Linked DNA regions of Homo sapiens. The protein of the gene in region 1 purifies or fractionates together with the protein of each later gene. This does not show direct contact. Each region holds a gene or a part of one and is shown in the gene's direction. Other genes may lie near its edges.

Evidence for each region. The genes of interacting proteins can lie anywhere in the genome.
Region 2: the proteins of DOK4 (region 1) and SMARCAD1 purify together in Homo sapiens (affinity purification with mass spectrometry; 3 studies listed by BioGRID and IntAct, with this or other methods). This does not show direct contact.
Region 3: the proteins of DOK4 (region 1) and HMG20A purify together in Homo sapiens (affinity purification with mass spectrometry; 4 studies listed by BioGRID and IntAct, with this or other methods). This does not show direct contact.

Annotation. Positions count from the first base shown.
Region 1 is NC_000016.10:57,483,345-57,490,938, reverse strand, and holds the start of DOK4 (docking protein 4), read left to right. Parts: upstream 1-4,445; 5' UTR 4,446-4,634; intron 4,635-7,594. UniProt on the Homo sapiens protein: DOK proteins are enzymatically inert adaptor or scaffolding proteins. They provide a docking platform for the assembly of multimolecular signaling complexes.
Region 2 is NC_000004.12:94,273,804-94,281,414, forward strand, and holds part of SMARCAD1 (SWI/SNF-related matrix-associated actin-dependent regulator of chromatin subfamily A containing DEAD/H box 1), read left to right. Parts: intron 1-934; coding exon 935-994; intron 995-1,086; coding exon 1,087-1,162; intron 1,163-2,535; coding exon 2,536-2,671; intron 2,672-3,218; coding exon 3,219-3,356; intron 3,357-4,618; coding exon 4,619-4,714; intron 4,715-4,812; coding exon 4,813-4,930; exon of another isoform or gene 4,931-5,119; coding exon of another isoform or gene 5,120-5,125; coding exon 5,126-5,247; intron 5,248-6,788; coding exon 6,789-6,977; intron 6,978-7,611. UniProt on the Homo sapiens protein: DNA helicase that possesses intrinsic ATP-dependent nucleosome-remodeling activity and is both required for DNA repair and heterochromatin organization.
Region 3 is NC_000015.10:77,423,827-77,431,437, forward strand, and holds part of HMG20A (high mobility group protein 20A), read left to right. Parts: intron 1-7,611. UniProt on the Homo sapiens protein: Plays a role in neuronal differentiation as chromatin-associated protein. Acts as inhibitor of HMG20B. Overcomes the repressive effects of the neuronal silencer REST and induces the activation of neuronal-specific genes.

The DNA of each region.
Region 1 (7,594 bases):
CTAACATGGTGAAACCCTGTCTCTACTAAAAATACAAAAATTAGCCGGGTGTGGTGGCAGGCACCTGTAATCCCAGCTACTTAGGAGGCTGAGGCAGGAGAATCGCTCGAACCTGGGAGGCGGAGGTTGCAGTGAGCAGAGATGGTGCCATTGCACTCCAGCCTGGGCAAGAGAGCAAGACTCTGTCTCAAGGAAAAAAACTAACAAACAAACAAACAAAAAAACAGGCTAAAGATGAAAAATCATATATTAGTATAGAAAAGCATTTGACTAAATTAAACGTTCATTAATGGTAAAAAGCTCTCAAAAAATAAGAGAGGAGGACTTCCACAATTTGATAAAGAGCATCTACAAAAAACCTACAGCTAACGTTGGTCCTTAATGATGAAAAATTGAATGCTCTCCCCGAAGATCAGCAACAGGGTAAGGATGTCAGCTCATACTACAACATAGTGCTGAACATTTTAGCCAATGTGATAAACCACTAACAAATAGGTAGAAAAAGAGGAAAAAAACCTTTTCTACATGCAGATGACATGATTATCTATGTAGAAAATCTCAAAGAATCTACCAAAAAAAAAAAGACAAAAACCTCCTAGAACTAATATGTTCAGCAAGGTTGCAAAATATAATTATACAAAAATTATTTCCATATACCAGCAATGAACTCATTCATGGGCAGCAAAATTAAAAATGCAATACCATTTAAAATCACCAAAAATAAGTAAATAAAATAATTAGGTGGAAAGCTAACAAAATGTGTATAGGACCTGTATGCTGAAAACTCCATAATGCTGATGAAAGACATTAGAAATAAATAAATAAATGGAGAGACATACTGTGTTCTTGAATTGGAAGACTCAGCATAGTAAAAATGTCAATGCTCCCCAATTGATATACAGGTTTAATGTAATTTCTATCAGAATCCCAGCAAGATATTCTGTAGATATAGATAACATTATTCTAAAATTTACATAGAAAGATAGAGAATATTACCAGGACAGCTGAAACAATTTTGAAAAAGAGTAAGTTGGGGCTGGGCGCATTGGCTCATGCCTGTAATCCCAACACTTGGGAGGCCAAGCTGGTAGGATCACTTAAGGCCAGGAGATTGAGACCAACCTGGGCAACATAGTAAGAACTCCATCTCTACACAATAATTTAAAAAATTACTTGGGCATGGTGGTCTCAGCTACTCAGGAGGTTGAGGGTGGAAGATTCCTTGAGCCCAGGCACTCAAGGCTGCAGTGAGCTATGATCATGCCACTGCACACCAGCTTGGGGGACAGAGTGAAACCTTGTGGCAAACAAACAAACCAATAACTTGGGAGGAATTAATAACAATCTACCTCAGAGGTCCCCAATCCCTGGGCCACAGACCGGTACTGGTTGTGGTCTGTTAGGAACCTGGCTGCACAGCAGGAGGTGAGCAGCTATGAATGAAGCTTCATCTGTATTTACAGCCGCTCCTCATTGTTCACATTACCACCTGAGCTCCGCCTCCTGTCAGACCAGCAGCAGCATTAGATTCTCATAGGAACAAAACCCTATTGTGAACTGTGCATGCGAGGGATCTAGGTCATAGGCTCTTTATGAGAATCTAATGCCTGATGATCTGTCACTGTCTCCCATCACCCCCAGATGGGACTGTCTAATTGCAGGAAAACAAGCTCAGGGCTCCCGCTGATTCTACATTATGGTGAGTTGTGTAATTATTTAATTATATATTACAATGTAATCATAATAGAAATAAAGTGCACAATAAAGGTATTGTGCTTGAATCATGCTGAAAACACTCCCACAACATCCATGGAAAAATTATCTTCTATGAAACTGTCTGTGGTGCCAAAAAGTTGGGGACCACTGGTCTACCTGATTTTAAGACTTTTTTTTTTGAGACAGAGTTCCACTCTTTTTGCCCAGGCTGGAGTGCAATGGCGCGATCTTGGCTCACTGCAACCTCTGCCTCCCAGGTTCAAGCGATTCTCCTGCCTCAGCCTCCCGAGCACACGCCACCACACCCAGCTAATTTTGTATTTTTAGTAGAGATGGGGTTTCACCATGTTGGCCAGGCTGGTCTTGAACTCCTGACCTCCAGTAATCCATCCGCCTTGGCCTCCCAAAGTACTGGCATTATAGGCATGAGCCACTGCTCCTGGCCTTAAGACTTACTATATAGGCATAGTAATCAAGACTGTTATTAACAGAGAGATAGACATGCAGATCAGTGAAATAGAACAGAGAATCCAGAAATATGTCCAACTGATTTTTTACGAAGTTGCAAAAGCAATTCAATGAGAGTCTTTTCACCAAATAGAGCTAGAACAATCAGACATCCACAGGCAAAAAAAAAAAAAAATGAAATCAAACCTAAACCAAAAAAAGACATCAAAACCTCTATCAAATCTCACACTTCCTATAAAATTCAACTCAAAATGGATCACAGACTTAAATGTAAAATAAAATTATGGAACTTTCAGAATAAAACACAGGAGAAAATTCAAAGAGTTTTTAGATTAGGCAACAAAAGTGTGATCCATAAAAGGAAACATGGATAATTCAGACTTTATCGAAATTTAAAACTTTTGTTTTGTGAAAGACTCTGTTAAGTGGATGAAAAGACAAGCCAAAAACTGGGAGAAAATATTTGCAAACCACATATTCAACAAAGGACTAGTAGGTAGAATATACAACTCTCGAAATTCAACAGTAAAAAAGCAAATCATCACATGGGGTGCAGTGGCTCATGCCTGTAATCCCAGCACCTTGGGAGGCCGAAGCAGGTGGATTGCTTGAGCTCAGGAGTTTGTGACCAGCCTGGGCAGCATGGTGAAACCCTGTCTCTACAAAAAAATCCAAAAAATTAGCTAGGCGTGGTGGTGCACACCTGTAGACCCAGCTACTGAGGAGCCTGAGCAGGGAGGATCACTTAAGCCCCGAGGCAGAGGTTGCAGTGAGCTGAGATCACACCACTGCACTCCAGCCTCAGTAACAAAAAAAGAAGGCTTTTTATTGTGAAAATTCATTTGTGTTGTTGTTGTTGGCCAAAGCTCCCCTAGAGGTTTCTGGTGTTGAAAAACAGTTTGCTATGATGAATCAAGTGCTGGGAGCTTTAGGGGCTGTGGTTTGAAGCAAAGCAGGTGAGGTCAAGTTTGAAAGACGCATAGGGAGGTCAGGAGGTTGAGGCCCAGGCTAGCTTGGCCATGGGCCTGGGGCTGGTTAGCTCAGGCTGATCACAGACACCACAATGACCATCAGGGAAATTTTCAGACATCCAGAGGCAGCCTCCTTTTAAGCTCCCTGGGCAAGGCTGAGGCCCAGGCGTCTCCGGGGCAGGGGCATGCATTCCATGGGTGGGTGTTGGGATCCTTGGTCCCTCACTGCTTTAGGCCTATTCCTCTGAGACACCTGGACAGTAGCTGGATGTGGAGGTATTTTCATTTCTCAGGATTTTGGCTGTTCAGGTGGCCTATTGTTTTGTTTTGTATATATGGTCTAAAGCAGTGGTTCTCACACATTCGTGTGCATCAGAATCACCTGGCCTGTTAAAACACACATTTCTGCTGGAAACCCCCAAAAATTCTGATTTCATAGGTCTGAGTAGGGCAGGGAATTTGCATTTCTAACAAGTTTCAAGGTGATGGGAAGCTTCTGGTCCAGGGACTACACTTTGAGAAGCCCTGGTGTAAAAAGGTACAGACGTGAAAACCAGAGGGGGGACAGCTCCTCCCCAGAGGAGGCACTGGGCAACTTCTCTTGTCCCTGCCTGGCACAGCTGAGGCCTGTGACTGGGGATTCCGACAGATCAGTGAGTCAACCACTGCACAGGCCCGAAGGGCAGAGGTGAGGGGGTTGGGGGCTGGGTGGGGGCAGCAATGAAGGGGAATGAAGTTTGAGCTTGAGGGCAAAGTCTCAGGGGGACCTAGAATGGGAGAACTGGATGTTTTGAGGGTGGAGAGGAGACCAGGGAAGACAGAGGTGCTGGTGCGGCTACTTGAGGAGGGGTAGCAGAGGAGGTCACTGTGGGGCTGGGAGAGCTGGGCTGTGAGGGCCCAGAGAGTCATGATGGGGTTAGGGGAGCAATGGGTGTGTATGTGATTCCTGAAGAAGTGAAGGAATTGAGATATGGGGGCTGGGAGCTGATGTGGCGTATGGGTGTGTATGTGATTCCTGAAGAAGTGAAGGGGTTGAGATGTGGGGGCTGGGAGCTGATGTGGAGTTCAGCTTTCAGGGGCTGAGAGGCCATGTGGGCTTTGGGGCCCAGGGAGGGGCGGTGGGAATGAGCTGGGGGTACCGGGGGCGACCTGAAGCGGGTGCGGGGGTGCCAGGGCGCCAGGGCAGAATCGCGCGTCCCGCGGCTCGGAGGAATACGGCGGGGGCCGGCCGCCAGGGCGGGGCAGGGGGCGGGGCGCAGCGGCGAGACCTGGCGGAGGGGGGAGCGGAGCGGAGTCCCAGCCGGAGCCCCAGCCGGAGCCCGATCCCTAGCCCTGCGGCCGCGCCTCCCTCGCCGTCCCCGCCTGGAGCCCGGCGCCGCCGCCGCCCTGCCGCCCCCGCCAGCCGCGCCGTGACGCGGGCATGAGCCTGCTCCGCGGCGCCGCTGAGCAGGCGCTCCTGGCCCGGGCCTCGGCGCCCAGGTAAATTGGGGGGCGTGAGGCAGGGAGGGGGACATAGGCCGCCCAGAGCCTGCAAGAGTCTCGGCGACTCCCACCCCTGAGGACCCTCAGTCACTTCCTGAACCTGAGGACGCTCCGTCCCATGGGACCTTCCTACTCTCGGGTGGGGAGCTTAGAGACCCGCCCCCCAAAAGCCAGTGCCTGGGCCCTGAAACTCCCTGCGCTCTCTCCACCCGCAGCTTTCCTCTCCGGGGGAGCCCAGGTCGCGAGCTGACCTCACCCGCACCCACACAAACCTCATCCGAGCAACCCAGGCCCTGCGCTCCCGGGCCTGCCCCCCCGGAAGGGGCATAACCCAGCCCCTGGCAGCTCCCAACCTTCTCTCTGCCTTCCTGCTCCTCCCCGGGGCCTCCTGTTCGCTCACCTCCTCCAAATTCCAAGAGATGATTTTCTGTACCCCAGCTGGCCCCCACTGCCGACCCCCTCCTGCCTATGGGGTTTCTCCCCACAGCCCAAACTCATGGCCAGCTGCCTCCTGTCCTTGAACCTTTCTCCATTGGCCCCCAAGGTCCTGTCCACCTTCTCCCCCAGGGCCCGCAAGGCCCTAGATCCAGTTACATGCTTTCTATTACTGAAAAGGGGCATGAGCCGAGGCTGGGCACCTGGGTGATGTGGCAGAGCAGGGGCTCTGTGCAGCCTGCCTGCCCCAAGCCATGGGGACACGTCAGTTGCTGGGGCGCTTCCGCTTGGATGGAGGGTGTGGGTTGGAGGGGTCTGATGGCCAGGGCAGCGAGGGGCCTGGCAGTATCTCTAGGAGACTCCACTTGGGCAGTGTGAGGTGGGCTTGCTTAGGGCAGGTTCTTTCCTGGACCCTTTCAGAGGGATGTGGCGCTGGTACAGGCTCTTCCTGCCCCCACCCCCAACTCTGATCCCAGGAGCTGTGCCTCCTCTCCCCAGTTGCTTGCCTTGCTGTGCTGGTACTGGTTACTCCCAGCACTTCCCTCCTGGGCAGGGCAGCAGGGCTGGGCATGACCTCACCCCACAACCCTGGCCAAGGTGGGGCCGCCCAACTAGGCCTGGCCTCGATGTCAGCAGCATGCTCTTCCCTGAGGCAGCTCTGAACCAAACTGCGGGTCTTGGGCACAGCTGGTTCTCCAGTAACAACAGCCTGCTGGCCATGCCAGTCAGCGCTGAGACCCAGGAGCTGGGAGCCCACTGTGGCTCACGCACCTCTGGAAGCTGAGCCAGGTCCAGCCAGATGGAGGCTGGTGGTGGTGGAAGAAAGGATGGGGAGGAGGACAAGTCCTGGAGAGAATTACGTGTTCAGCCCCCAAATATTGAGCATCTCCTTCCCACCGGGCACCATTCTGGGAGCTGGGATAGAGCTGTTAACTAGACAGACGAGGCCGAGCCACCAGGGAGCTGACATTCCAGATGTCTCTCTGTGGCCAGAAACAAATGGACAGATGTAAGAACAAGAAAATCCCATGGTGATGTGCGATGAAGACAGCCGCATCTGATGTTGTGAGAGAGGCTGACTAGTGGGGGTCCTTTGGTGAGGGTAGTCAGGGAAGGCCTCCTGGAGGAGGTGGATGAAGCAATGGAATGAACCATGAGCATGTGAGGGAACAATGTTGTAGGTGGGAAACAGCTAGTGCAGTGGTCCCTCGAGGGAGGGGTTTTGGCATGTTGAGGGGTGGGCAGGGGACCCAGGAGAACCAGAGTGGTACGGGGCCACAGCATTACTCTCCTGGCTTAAGGGTCTGGGGGACCATGGCTGTTCAGATGTCCCCTCCTTCTGCCGTCCCTGTCTGCCTAGATGGGTATTTGGTCTGTCTTTGCCATCCACCTTGATGGGACTCACCATGTTTTGGCCGGTGGCCCCTATGGGGATCTGTTGGGAGCACTCCCAGCCGGCCTCTGACAACAATCTTGGGGTGGGGTGGGGGCAGAGCAGCAGGTGATGGGAAATGGCTCTGGTGCTGGAGAGAATCCCACAGATCCAATCTTCGCCGTTGGATCGAGACAGCCAGACGACACTGAGATGGTGTCCAGGTAGGGCTGTTCCTGCAGCCCTGATAAGATCCGATCTGTCAGGGGTGGGGAGGCCCAGCCAGGCAGGCAGCCGCTCGCTCAGTCATTGGTTGCCAGCCTCAGCGCGTTTGTTCTGGAGCCAAAGCCTCCAGGCAGAATCCATGTGCGAGAGGGAGTGCTCAGCATGGCTGCCCTGTGGGGCAGGTGGGCAGTGAGGGCCCTGGGAGTCTCCCTACTCCCCGCCACCCCAGGACACCAGCCCTTCCTGGGGAGAGGAGCATTTTGGAGCTGGCTCTCCCTGCGCGGAAACCTGTGGTGGCCTGGCACCAGGCAGGTACTGTCCCTGGGTAAGCAGCAGTATTGGTACCAGGCTGGGAGGTGGGATGCGGGGGGCCCTTGCTCCCCTCCTCCCTCACTGGAACCCTGAGAGCGACTGCTGGACACCGTGCTTAGCTGGGAGCTCGGAGCTCACAGTGCTGGGGAAGGACCCAAGACCTCAGGTCCTCTCAAAGTAGCAAGCATTCTTCCTGCTGCAGGCCTGTTGGGGACAAGGGCCTGAGGGACAAACAGGGCAGGGGCTACTTCAACCCAATTCCTGGCCTGCCTAGCCTCAGCTGCCCTCCAATTTTTGTATTTTTTTAATTGATTTTTTTGAAATTTTTTAGAAACAGTCTCACTCTATCACCCAGGCTGGAGTGCAGTGGCTTGATCATAGCTCACTGCTACCTGGAATTCCTGAGCTCAAGTGATCCTCCCACCTCGGCCTCCCCAGTAGCTGTGACTACAGGCACGTGCCACATGCCCAGCTTATTTTTTCATTTTTTGTAGAGACGGGGTCTCTCTATGTTGCCGGATCTGGTCTTGAACTCCTGGCCCCAAGTGATCCTCCCACTTTGGCCTCCCAAAGTGTTGGGATTACAGGTGTGAGCCACTGTGCCTGGTCTGCT
Region 2 (7,611 bases), on another chromosome or scaffold:
GTGTTGTGGTTTCTTAGTTTGTAGAGATGAATATTAATTTTATGGTCTCTTTATACTTTTCTCCTTTGTTTATATATGTGTGTTTGATTATATTGGCAGTCTTTTAAAAAGAACTCAAATGTAAGTCAGTTTTAAAATTTTAGACCAAGGACGATTTATGTTGGTTTCATAATACTTTTAGTTACTTTTAAAAGTGACTAAGAGAAAATGAGTACTTTTAAATGTAGAATTAAACAGATACGTAATTAATTCCTACACACATAACTGTTCCATTCTTTCTCAATTCGTTGGATGTAGAAGTTAGAATAAGAGAATATTTGTACATGTGAATGTAACAAAGAAAACCCCCTTCTCTTTAAATTGGAGGTTAATAATCAACTGTAAATATAATATTTGGTCATCTGCCCTTCATTTTGATGCCTCACAAAACCTCAAGATCATTTTACATAGGTTTCATAAGGAGTAATATTGTAAAGGGTCTGTGATAAAAACAATCGCCATGGTATTTATATTTTAATTTTTAATTTTTATTTATTTTTTTTAAGACAGTCTCGCTGTGTCACCCAGGCTGGAGTGTGGTGGCTCAATCTTGGCTCACCGCAACCTCCGCCTCCCAGGTTCTCGTGCCTCAGCCTCCCGAGTAGCTGGGACTACAGGCGCCCGCCACCATGCCTGGCTAATTTTTGTATTTTTAGTGGAGATGGGGTTTCACCATGTTGGCCAGGCTGGTATCAAACTCCTGACCTCAGGTGATCCACCCGCCTCAGCTTCCCAAAGTGTTGGGATTACAGGCATGAGCCACCTTGCTGGGCCAGTATTTACTTTTTATAAAAGACTGATTTCTGAGTAGCACTTGTCAAAGTTTAGTGTTAATTTAACCATGTGAACATACCCTATTGTAGCAGATGCAAATAATGTCTCTTCTGTTCCATAGATAACTGGTTAAGGGAAGTTAATTTATGGTGCCCTACTTTGAAGGTCCTCTGTTACTATGGTAAGAATATGTCATTCTGCTTTTAACTTTGGAAATTAAAAATAAAGTACAGCACAATAAATAGTCATGTGTTTATTGTTTTTAAATTCTAGGTTCTCAAGAAGAACGTAAACAAATTAGATTTAACATTCATAGTAGATATGAAGATTACAATGTAATTGTGACCACGTAAGTATTGAGAAATTTGGGGAGGATGGATATTTATGCAGCCCCCAAATTTAAAAAAGAAATTGTAGTAGTACTATGTAGGAAAGTTTATGCTGTTAACTGTGATACGAAAGTAATAGAATGACTAATGTTGAGGATTCAGGCATTTTTTAGTTTGGTGTGTAATACCCATATAGGAGGTTTTTGTTAGTGAATCACCTCATTAATGGTGACTATAAAAAGGTTTTGCCTAGTTATTGAAAAAAGTCGTCTTGTAATAGTAATTTCTCAGTTAAGCTTAAAGTAAAATTTGAGATATCCCACCAAAATTATTTATATTTTTAACTTACAAATAAGTATCTGTAATAAATACAATGAAATTTCATTTTCTCAATGAAAAATTTGAGTTAGGGCAGAAATAAAAATGAAAAATAATACTAATAATACTACTTGGTAATAATTGATGTAAATATCTTGCACAGAACTTAATGCTCTTGTGTTACATTAGTTGATTTATTTAAAGTTCTATTTTAACTGTAGTTATTATTTCTCTCTACTGGCTTCTTGTGTAGGAGTCTGTCCTTTAAAAATTCATGCGGAATTTTATTTTTTCTTAATAAAACAGGCTCCATATGCAGTCTCAAGCTGCTAGCTATTAACTATTATTTCTTGGATCTAATCTGCTAGTTTAATAAAATATTAAGTTTTAAAGAGAAACATGTTTTAGCTTCACGTTCTTTTTTGTGCTTATTAAAATATAACACTTCATGGAGCAGATTACTTACAAGTTATACCCAAATTGACCTCCTCCTGGGTATGTAGAAGTTGTCCGATTGTAACATTAACATTTTCTTTTTTTTTTTTTTTTTTGAGACGGAGTCTCACTCTGTCCCCCAGGCTAGAGTGCAGTGGCGCGATCTCAGCTTACTGCAACCTCTTGCCTCCCGGGTTCACGCCATTCTCCTGCCTCAGCCTCCTGAATAGCTGGGACTACAGGCGCCCACCACCACACCCGGCTAATTTTTTATATTTTTAGTAGAGACAGGGTTTCACCGTGTTAGCCAGGATGGTCTCGATCTTCTGACCTCGTGATCCGCCCGCCTCGGCCTCCAAAAGTGCTGGGATTACAGGTGTGAGCCACCGCTCCCAGCCTTTTAACATTTTCTTTCAATTATGTATTGCAGCTTTCATAGCTTGGTTACAGTGTACATCAATAATTATTAAATACAAGTACGTCAGTATTTATTTGAGTATCACCCGTGTCTAGTGCTGTGCTTTAAGTACTGGCTGTTAGAAATGTGTAAATAAAAAATGATTTTATAAGACATTAAATTTCACTAGACTCCAAGCTCTTAAAGGTATAACCTTAGAGATGTTTTTTCTTTTGGTGACAGATATAACTGTGCGATCAGCAGTTCTGATGACCGTAGTCTGTTTCGACGGCTGAAACTTAATTACGCAATTTTTGATGAGGGCCATATGCTGAAGAATATGGGCTCCATTCGCTACCAGCACCTTATGACAATTAATGTAAGAGAATGTTTGTAAAGTTTTCCAAATTACTGTAAAATTTAGATTACGTAATTTAATATATGTAGTATTTATTAGCAGAATCTGTATTATGTAGTTTAATATATGTAGTATTCTGTGTTAGCAAGTTTTTTCTGTAAAAGGGAAGATAGTAAATATTTCACACTTTATGGACTAGATGGCCTCTGTCACGTATTCTTTGATTTTGTTTTTTAACAACCCTTTAAAAAATTATTAGGTCATAAGCCATAATTTACCTGTTCTATATGTTAAACTATTTATAAATAATCTTTCATCATCTCATAAAGGTGATACGAGGACACAAGTTACCTACTTATAAAAGAAGACCAATGGTTTTCGTATTCATTGCTGTTGATAATAGCGGACGTCAATTATTTAAATTACTATATCATTTATCACAGAATGTTAAATTATTAATAATGGTTTTAATTTATCTCTCCTCCCTTCACCTTTCACTGGGGAGGATAGACATGAAAGGAGTGGCTCTTTAAGAAAAAGCTAATATAAATTTTACCTTCATTCACAGGCAAATAACCGTTTGCTGCTCACAGGCACACCTGTACAGAACAATCTGTTAGAACTCATGTCGCTGTTGAATTTTGTTATGCCACACATGTTTAGTAGTAGCACCAGTGAAATACGAAGAATGTTTTCCTCTAAGACAGTAAGCATAAATGCATATTTTCTCCCAAATATGTTATTTGTGTTTTATCTGGGCCATTCTTCTGTTAGGTCTCTTTTGTTGTTTTCATAGTGCATATGCTCTATGAAGTAACTTTAAGTAGGTGATAACTCTATATTTGGATTGGTTTGGAAACCAGCCAAAATATAATGGGAAAGAAAATAGCAATTTCCCTAATCAATGGCCAGAAGTCTTGGTTAATATCCTAATTTTCTGAAGGATGACGATTTTAAATTGATGAAGAGCTCAGATATATAGTATGTGCGGAAAGTTTGATCATTACATCATCTGTATCAAAATTGGCTACGTAAATTAGTAACATTTCTTTATGGGTAAACTATAAAACTAGACAAAGCTAGAATATCCAGAAAATGCCTATGCTGAGAAATATATTCTGAAATAAAAGTTCATAAAACCAAAGTCACAACTAAAAGCGACAGTAAAGAAATCCTCTTCACAAGAAAAGTTTTGTTACTTCTTTATTGTTTAGGAAAAGTATAGTCTTCAAGAACTCCCAGTTTTTTCAATACCGCAGTGTTTACACTGATTCTTGGCTCTCTTCCACATCACTAATCTTTTGCAAGAATTTTCTGTGATACTCGTCCACTGCAAATTAACTGCCTTTTAAACATTTACTAATTTGAATTCCCTCCCACTTAATGTACAGTGTTTTAAATGGCCTAGCAGATTTTATGAACCATTTTCTATCTTCAGTTCATAATATATGGAGGACTCCTTCACATCCTAGAATAAAATTCTACTTCTTAATTCTCCAGAGTCACCAGTTCTGACTAAGCACTATTCCCCATTTTTAGACCAAGTGATTTGCATCAGTCTGCACTAGCTTCCTTTTGGGGCCATTTTCCACAAAGAAATAAAGGATTTTCTACCCCCCACGCTCCTCCTTACCCACACTTAGACACATTTTTCAATGAGAGTTATCTAGGTAATCGATACATGACTCATCAGTTGATGACTTCTGAACACCCATCTGGTACAGTTCAAATTGATTACTTCAGTAGAGAACATGATTACGTATCATAAAACTTCAAAATACATATGGAGCTTCAAGAAGTACATGGCAGCCCAGAATTCAGATGTGAAGTGCCATCTAGAATGAATCAAGTTTCTGCAGAAAATAACTCAGACTCTAATGAGGGAGATTTTTATGTTGTGTAATAATACTGTTATTGCAATAATTTAAGTGAATAATTCCTAAAAGGATATGTTTTTATTTTGCTCAGAAATCAGCAGATGAGCAAAGCATATATGAAAAGGAGAGAATAGCACATGCAAAACAAATTATAAAGCCATTTATTCTCAGAAGAGTAAAAGAAGAGGTAATGCATATCTACATGTTTTTTATTTTTATTGTTTTTAAAACTTAGGTTTTTCTCTTTACTAGAATGATTATCTTAAACTGTTTTTTCTGTCTCAGGTTCTCAAGCAGTTACCCCCCAAGAAAGATCGAATTGAGTTGTGTGCAATGTCGGAGAAGCAGGAGCAACTCTATTTGGGTCTTTTCAACAGATTGAAAAAATCTATCAATAACTTGGGTATAATCTGATTTTTACTCTTTTATGTGAAAAAGAATCTTGTACTGGGGATGCATTTTGTTTAGTCATATAATGGGATTTGTGCATTTTAAAAAATTATCTGGAATTTGAGGAAATAATTTTAAAACTTAGTTGATATATTTCAACAGTTATCCGCTTGGTTTTATTTTTTACTGTGTTCTCTTTGAGTCACAGAAAAAAACACAGAAATGTGCAATGTCATGATGCAGTTGAGGAAAATGGCCAATCATCCTTTATTACATCGCCAATATTACACAGCTGAAAAACTCAAGGAAATGTCTCAGCTTATGCTAAAGGTAAGGATTTCATATTATGTTAACACTAAGCTTTAATAAGAGGTTAAGTTGTTAGGCTATAAGATTGGTGAACCCAATGGGCATACTAAACCTTTAACTACATATTTAAGAAAAACTTTTTTTTTTCAGACCAGGTCTGGTTCTGTTGCCAAGGCAGGCAGTCTGGGCTCACTGCAACTTCTGCCTCCTAGGCTTAAGCCATCCTCCTGCGTTGGCCTGCTGAATAGCTGGGACTACAGGCACGCACCACCATGCCCGGCTAATTTTTTTGTACGGATGGGGTTTTGCCATGTTGCCCAGGCTGGTCTTGAACTCCTGAGCTCAAGCGATTCGCCCGCCTTGGCCTCCCAAAGTGCTGGAATTACAGGCATCAGTCACTGCACTGAAACACGAAAAACACATTTTAGACTAAGTTCAAAATGATCTGGGGGACATAAAAACAAAGAAGGACTGATAACCTACATTATAAGTCAGCAAACTATGGCCTTACGGCAGTGACTATTTTTATAAATAAGGTTTTACTATAACACAGTCATGCCTGTTTTTGTTTTCTGGGACTGCTTTCTCACTACAGGGGCAGAGTTGAGTACTTGCCTTACAGGTCATTTTGCCTACAAAGCCTAAAATATGATCTGGCCCTTTACAGGAACAGTTTGCTAACTCCTAGTCTAGACTTCCATAATGCACTTCTTTTTCATTTTATTTCTTTATAATTTTAGCAATTACTCTTTATTTTTGCCTCTTTCTCCTTTAACATTTTAACCTTATTTATCCTTACTGATCTTTGGTTGAAAGCAACCCATTTTCTTCCTTTTCTTTACTTTTTTTTTTGAGATAGACTTTTGCTCTTGTCGCCCAGGCTGGAGTGCGATGGCATGATCTCTGCTCACTGCACCCTCCGCCTCCCAGGTTCAAGTGATTGTCCTGCCTCAGCATCCTGAGTAGCTGGGATTACAGGCACCTACCACTACGCCCAGCTAATTTTTGTATTTTTAGTAGAGATGGGGTTTCACCACGTTGGCCAGGCTGGTCTCGAACTCCTGACCTTAGGTGATTTACCCACCTCGGCTTCCCAAAGTGCTGGGATTATAGGCGTGAGCCACTGCACCTGACCAACCCATTTCTTTTTAAATTTTTTTTTATTATTTTAAACTTATGGAGAATTTCAAACATTTATAAAAGTAGAATTGCATAATGAAACTGCCCATATGTTACTTCACCCCTTTGAAAGTTACCATTTGATAATAACACCACCCTTGTTTCATCTATACCCCAGACTTCTCCCCAGGGTTATTTTGAACCAAGTTCTAGATGTTATTTCATCTGTAAATATTTTAGTATGTTATCTCTCAAACAGTAAGGACTTCTCCCCCTTTATTATACCTAAAAGATTAATACTAATTTTCCTTGATAAGTCTGTTACACTAAAAGGTTCTATGATTTAGATATTTTATCAGGTATAAACAGTTTTATTAAACTTTTCTCATCATATTATTAATTATTTTTATTTTGAAGTATACTGTGTTTTGTTTTGTTTTAAGGAACCTACACATTGTGAGGCTAACCCTGACCTGATCTTTGAAGATATGGAAGTTATGACAGACTTCGAACTACATGTACTTTGTAAACAGTACCGACACATTAATAACTTTCAGTTAGACATGGACTTGATTTTAGATTCTGGAAAATTTCGAGTTTTAGGATGCATCTTGTCTGAATTGAAACAGAAGGTATTAAAAAAGAATGGCGTTTCTTTTGTATTTTCTCAATTACTTTAACTTCTTAAAGCAATTCTGGCACACTGACTTGCTTGAATTAGCCTATGTCTGTTCTGCATTCTTCCAGAACTTAGTGTTTTGAACATTTTCTTGACGTATTTTCTTGATTACCTCCTTTCCTCTGTTGAACCTCAGACAAAAACAATAGAAAGTTAGTAGACTGTATCTGTATTGATGTTTTAAAAAAATCTTAATTGTCATTATTTCATAGGTGACAATCTGTATGTGTGCTTCAAAATTAGTTTTTAAAGACACTATTTGTTAGTTATTTAAGTAATGCTGCCGTTTATGTGTGAAATAGCCTAAATTTGTAAAATCACAGTCCAGATAATACATACATAAGCAGTTGTCCACATTTTCCGACGTTTTTCTTATGAAAAGGAAGTAATTTAACTGTTCTTAAAATCAAAACTGAGAGCTAGCTTTTAGCCCTGAAGTTAAGGCAGTTTATTCATATATAGGCTGCAATAAGACATACGTCTTCGGTATTACTGATTTGTATTAAAGAAGCAGTTTATCACAGAGAATTTTCTGCAAATTTATCAACATGATATAAGTAACACTTCTAACTGTTTAAACCTGTCAA
Region 3 (7,611 bases), on another chromosome or scaffold:
GGGTTGAGGATTAAAGAAAGTATCTTAAGAACCTGAATGGTTTTTCACCTTACTGCTTTGCTGTCTCTATTTCATAGCCTTCACAGGTATTCAAATGAGAATACCCTTTACGTGACTTTTCATTATTTAAGCAAAAGTTTAGAGTGTCTACTATATGCCAGTCACTGTTCTCAGGACTTTGAATACAGTAAATACGGCCAAATATTCATATTCTACTGTAGTTTACTCTCTAATTTACAAATTAAAACTAGAATTTTGCTCCCTTGGTATTCCTAAATAAGATCTATGTTATGATCGTTGTTCAGACTGGGTAAAGAAGCAGCCCTAAACTTGATCTCTCCTGGTCTTAATCTCTAAGCCATTCTAAACCCAGATTTGAATGTTTCAGCCTAATTTTTCTCCAGACCATAGAAGCCCCTGTGTTAAATATGCAGTCCCTTTCATTGATACATGTATCATTTTCCTACCATTCTAGCTTCTTTTGTATTGTGAAAACAAATGAGAGTGAACAGTGGGGAAAATATGGGATCAGATAGGCCCAAATTCAGCACTGGTCTCTGCATTTTACTGGCTGAGCTTACTAGCTTGGTAACCATGAGCAATTTATTTGACCTCCCTAAGCCTCAGTTTTCCTAAATCCAAATGGGGTTGTTTGGTGGAATCAGAATGTTGTATGTAAATCTCCTGGTCCAATGCCTGGTGCCAGAAGCTTCATTAATGCAATTATCTTACCCCCAATCTTGCTTCTGCTACTCTGGCTATTGTGATTTGCCCACATGTCTGTTTTAAGCTTTACATTTTCCCCACAGTATGGGATGCAGTGGTAGACTGACTGAGCTTCAGCCTTGTCCCCCTATCAGCATGCTCACACAGTTGTCAAGATTTAATTTTTTTTCCTTGTGGGAAGGAGAAATCACTAATTTCCATGATTAGAAGATATACAAAATAGAAAAGTTTCAAGAAAAGGAATCTTAATCTTGGCACAAATCACTAAGGTAATTTGAATTGTTACAGGCAGACTTTCAACTCATTCTCCTAAACTTATTTAAATACGAAAACCAAAAATGACCTTTCACACTATGATCATACCTCACATTATTCATCTACACATCCAAACGGGATCGCCTCTGGGGGGAAAAAAATCTGTACTGCACCCAGCATTAATATTTTTTTTTGCTCATGCTATTTTCTGCCTGAAACACTCTTTTTTCCTAGGAATCCCCATCTATCAAAATGCCACTTTCTTTGAGGTCGTTTCTCAAGTACCACATTTAAGAAATATTTTCTGATATCCATCCTCTTCTACACTCTCCCAAACTGTACACGTTCTGTCCATTAACTCTCCAGAGCATTATACCTTTCTTACAGCACTTACTGTCCAGTGCTCCTCTTGTTTGTTTTTATTGCGTTGTTGTAGGTAGAGTTTATGCCTTCCCTAAAAGGCTGCAGACTAGGTCTTATTCCACTCTGTGCTGTCATACCTGGCACAAGACCATTCACATCATAGGTATTCAGTAAATATTTGTGGACGTGAGCTGGCTCTTGGAGTATGACAAAACTGATCAATAACTTTTGTCCACAATTATGCCCAGCATCAGCACAATGGCTATCATACATTAGACACTCAAATATCTATAAAATGAAAGAGTGAATAGTAAGTCATCATTCTCTCATTTGGGAGCTTCTTAGGGTGTCAGATAAGCATATATTAAGCACCTCCTATATAACTGGAGCTGTAAGAACTGATCTCTGCTCCTCAATTTAATTGGAAAAAAGTAAATTGTTACTAATATCTGCAGACTTTGAAGATGGTAGGTGTTTGAGTAGGGATGGCATGGAGAGCTTAATATAGAATTGTTTGCATTGTGAGAGATACCCTCTGCTACCTGAACTCAGAAACCAAATAGATTTTTATATCAAATATTTGGACACTTAACTTGTATTTCCACTCCTAGGTATATATCCAAGAGAACTTAAAACATGTTCACACAAAAACTTGCACACAAATATTTGTAGCAGCCTTATTTGTAAAAGGCAAACTCAAATGTCCATTAATTATTGGATGACTAAACAAAATGCGATATAGCCATACAATGGAATATTATTCAGCAACAAAGAGAAACAAAGTAGCAATACCTGCTGTAACATGGATAAAACTTGAAAATATTAAAGTGAAAGAAGTCACATACAAAAGGCAACCTATTATGTGATTCCATTTATTTAAGATGTCTAGATTAGGCAAAACTAATAGAGACAGAAAGTACATTAGTGGATGGGAATGGGAGTGACTGCTAGTATGGAGTTTCCTTTGGAAGTGATGAAAATGTGCCAGAATTAGATAGTGGTGGTGGTTGCATAACCTTATATACTAAAATATCTTGTATACTAATATACAGTTGACACCTGAACAATGAGGGGGTTCGGGGTGCTAACCCCTGTGTTGTCAAAAATCCATGTATAACTTCTGACTCCCCAAAAAGTTAACTACGTAAATAGCTTACTGCTGACTGGAAGCCTTACCAATAGCATAAATAGTTGATTAACACATGTTTTATATGTTACATGTACTATGTACTGTATTCTTACAATAAGCTAGAGAAAGAAAATGTTACTAAGAAAATGATAAGGAAGAAAAAATATGTTTACTATTTATTATTCGTTAAGTGGAAGTGGATTATCATAAAGGTATTCATCCTTGTCATCTTCACATTGAGTAGGCTGAGAAGGAGGAAGAGGAAAGGTTGGTCTTACTGTCTCAAGTGGTGGAGGCAGAAGAAAATCAGCATATAAGTAGACTCATGCAGTTCAACCCATGTTGTTCAAGGGTCAACTGTACAAAAAAAATCCTGAAATATACACTAAAGGGGTCAGTTTTATGGTATGTGAATTATATCTAAAAGAGAGAGATACTTAGACTTGAAGAATAGAGAATTTTGAATGGAGCCAGAAGAAAGAAGCAAGAGGTGTGAAAGCAAGGAAATGATCATTCTTTCTCAGATCCTAGAGAGAAATATAAGCAGCTAGGTACAGGGCTAAAGGTATGTTAAGGATCAGGTGAGGATGGATATGAGGATAGCTTCTGGGTTTTTGTCTTAATGTAGCAGGGATTTTGGTAAATACTTAGACTACAGAGGTATTAACAAAGGAGAAAAACATCTTATGACCTTGAAGGAAGCTTCAGATTTCTTCTTGATTAGGTCAAGGATGTGGTATATGGTCTTTTTGGTTTCTGTGTTACGGTCAGCTGAGTTTAAAGAGTGGGAGTATTCTAAGGTAAGGAGTCTAGTAGCAATCAAAACAAAGTTACTGGGGAAGATGGGAGAATAGAGACTAGACAAAGATGTTAGAATTTGATTCTAAAGCTCTCCTCAGGTAATAAAAATAGATAAATCTTAATGAGAAGGAACCAAGGGCAGTGATTTGGAGAAGTCAGTACAAATAAAGGTATTCATTTGAAGAAATATTTGAGTGCCTTTTATGTGCCAGGCACTATTAAATAAAACTATAGCTATTTTCCTTATTTGACTTTTTTTCTGAAGATAAAATCTTATGAGTGTGATTAATGGTTCTACAAGCATGGGTAGTTCTAGATATGATACCTACATTTCCCTAAAAGATTGTACTGATTTTTAATGATAACAGCAATGTATAAGGATGTTGTTTTCACCACGATTTTACCAGCAAAAATATTTGGCTAGTTGAACACACATAAAATTATTGTTCTCTTTGCTTATAATCTGATAAGTGTTTCCATACCTTGGAACCTGGATCTGTTGGAACATGAAGGAATTCAGGACCCTTATACATGTTACCCCATATGGCTTCTTTAAAGGATATGGATTTTTGAGGATCCTAGAAATCAAAATTCTCTAATTTTATTCAGCTCAAAAAAAAATTTTATTCAGTGCTGCTGTCCTTATTTTCTGAATAATATTCAGATTCAGACCACACTGAGCCATAATTCCAATTCCCACTTGACTAACATTTATGTAGTATTGTGCTAGGCACTACATGTTATCTTAATTCTAATAATTTGGCATTTTTCCATATGAGAAAAATAAGATTTAGAAAGATTAGATTACTTGCCCAAAATCACTTAACCAGTAAGTGGTAGAGACAGGATTTGAATGCAGATCCTCTAAGGCCAGTGTTTATTCTCATACTGCATGATCCCTCAGTATCACTACTAAAATTTACTGGAGGATAATGGAAAGTGGAAAATCTGAACTGGAACTTGGGACAATCAAGCACTGACTTACCTGTGTTCATAATGAAGCATTTAGCAGAGATGTTGTTTGTTGTTTTGTTTTGTTTTTACTGGGGAGGCTATAGTACATAAACAGAGCGAAAGATCTTGGTATGGTTAAACCCACATTTTCAAGGCCTTCTGTGTTCTCCCTGATGATCAGGTACCTACTACCCCAAAATCTGTGATGGTAACAAAGAAGGAGGAAGGCAGCTGTAGAAAAGCAACGGCCTTTGGGTATACCCAGTAAGATTTATGTGATTGTAGAAAGAGCAGGCAAATGGCTTGGCCTTCAGAGAATCCCACAAAGTAAAGTAACCTTTTAAAATAGTAACTTAAAGTCTGACATAAGATTCTTAACAGGATATTCATCACAAGATAAGATATTCAAAGCATAGCGTGTAAGACATTCAAAGCATATCAGCAAAAAAGGAGAGATTCCTTCATTTTTATTGAAGTATGGTATACTCACAAAACAAATTTAATATCAGGAATATAAAACAAGAGATACGATGTTCCAATTCTGGCTTTAGTCGGATATTATAAAATTTAATCCCAATTTATAGATAAGGCAATTCAAGGCTCGAGATTACACACCAAATAAGTGGACTCTAGGCTGGGTGTGGTGGCTTCTGTAATCCCAACACTTTGGGAAGCCAAGGCAGAAGGATCGCCTTAGCTCAGGAGTTTGGGACCGGCTTGGGTAACATAGTGAGATGCTGTCTCTACAAAAAAATAAAAAATAGCCAGACATGGTGGTATATACACATGTGGTCATAGCTACTCAGGAGGCTGAGGCCAGAGGATCGCATAAGCCCAGGAGTTCAAGGCTGTGAGCTGTTATCGAGCCACTGCACTCCAACCTGGGCTACAGAGCAAGACTCTGTCTCAAAAAAAAAAAAAAAGGAGGGGGGAGCCTCTAGAACATAGGCCTTTAATCTGTGTGGTTGTTTTGCAATTTATATGTATAATTTTTAAATAATATGTTGGCCGGGCACAGTGGTTTGTATCTATAATCTCAACACTTTGGGAGGCTGAGACAGGAGGATTGCTTGAGGCCAGGAGTTTGAGACTAACACAGGCAACATAGCAAGACCCCATCTCTACTAAACAAAATAATAATAATTTAATATGGTGGGTTTTTTTGTTTTTTTTGTTTTTTTGAGACGGAGTCTTGCTCTGTCTCCCAGGCTGGAGTGCAGTGGCGCTAGTGAGCTCATGCAATTCTCCTGCCTCAGCCTCCCAAGTAGCTGGGATTACTAGCGCTTGCCTGCTTCAAAAGAAATGATTTCCAGCACCCCATTTTTTCTTTTCCAGCCTCAAAATTCATATCTCCTTTTTTTCCCCCATGTCCACATGTCCTTCATTCCTATACTTCATAGCTTTAATTCCTGTTCTCTTGATACAAACCTTCATGTTTGTTGCTTGATGGCATCATAATTATCATAACTTTTTGGCTTAATAACAGTAGCAGTTATATCAACAAATAATAAAATGTTCATACTTTTGAGCCAATAATTCCACATATAGAACTTCATTCTGAGAAAATACTTTAAATAAGAAAAATAGTTAAAGGCACAAAATGTTAATAGCACTGATATCTATACTGTCTAAAACTTGAAACCTTCTAAATATTCAACAATATAATAATGCCTAAGCAAATTATTGCCTATCTACTCAGTGGGCTGTAAGACATTCATTTTTCACAATAGCGTCTTTAAGAATACATTGAAAGATGTTGTAAGAATGTTTTTGCAAAAATGAAAAGGAGAAACATCAGAAGAAAAAGTAGAAAAACTAATGTGATTGGTGTCTATTTCTGAAGCATTTATATTTTCTATATAATAATAATTTACATTTACTGACCACTTACTTGTGTCAGGAACAATACTCAAGCAACATTATAGAAGCAACAATTTGTAGTTATTGAAAACTGGTGTTCTAGAATCAAATCTGAGCTTCATCACTTACTAATATGTGGTCTTGAAAAGGAAATGGAGGATAACTATGTCTACATTAAATTATTAAATCTATATAAAGTATTTGGCACATACAAAACCTACAATAAGAATGTTTTTGTTATCAGACATTTTATAAATATGTCTCATTTAATCTTCACATCCTCACAGTAACCTCATTAGATAGTGTTAACGTTCATTTTACATGAAAGAAAATTGAAACTTCAAATGTTTAAATACTCTAGGTTAAATAACTTGCCGAATCACTTAACTAATAAGCAGTAGAGTTTTTATTCAGAGCCCAAGCTATGGTTTCCACTTATGACTCTGAGAGATGAGGTTGCTGCAGACTAATGCTTTTGCTAAGAACAGGAAAGATGAGAATTAAAAAGAAAAGTGAAGGCATCAGAGACCTGCTGAGGCATCCAGGACTTAAGAAACCACAACCATAGAACCAAAGGAGCTTCAGAGAAGTGGGCTGATGTTCCATGCTTCTCTTTTTTCCTAGGAATTTGCTAATTCTTAGAGCATGACAAGATGCTGTGAAACTTAGCAGAGGGTTTCTTCTAAAAGCAGAGAAGCTGTTAGTTTTATGGGGCGGAGCAGACAAAACTTGGATTTTAGAGATCTCCAGGTAGCTAGTTCTTGGGTCAAGATCCCTAGAGAAGGACAGTACCCAGAAACTTTTTTAAAACTTGTTTTCCCCTCACAGTGTTTGCTAGGCAGAGTCTAGAACTGTAAGAAAGTTAATTTGTATTGCTTTAAGCCAATAGCTTTGGATAACTTGTGACAGCAACAATATGAAACTATTACAGAGACATGAGGAAATGATGAAGAAGTCTAACATACATATGACTGGAGGAGAGAAAGTTAGAAGCAGTAATATTTTAAGAGACAGTGATTGAGAATTTTCTAAAACCGATGACAAATATCAAGCCATGGATTTGAAAAGTGCAAGAAACGACAAGCAGAATAAATACAAGGAGTACCACACTTTCATTCTTCATAGTAAAAATAAAACTGTTGAAAGTAACCAGAGGAAAAAAGACACATAATCTTCAAAGGAACAATTAGACTGACATCTGACTTGTCAACAGAAATAATGGGGGCCAGAAAACAATACAATGTAACTTTTTTGTTTGTTTTTTTGCTTTTACCTACTTGGTTTATTTATTTTTTATTTTATTTTATTTTATTTTGAGATGGAGTCTCCCTCTGTCACCCAGGCTGGAATGCAGTGGCGTGATCTCAGCTCACTGCAACCTTTGCCTCCTGTGTTCAAGCGATTCTCCTGCCTCAGCCTTCCAAGTAGCTGGGATTACAGGTGCATGCCACCACACCCAGCTAATTTTTGTATTTTTAGTAGAGACAAGGTTTCACCATGTTGGCCAGGCTGGTCTCGAAGTC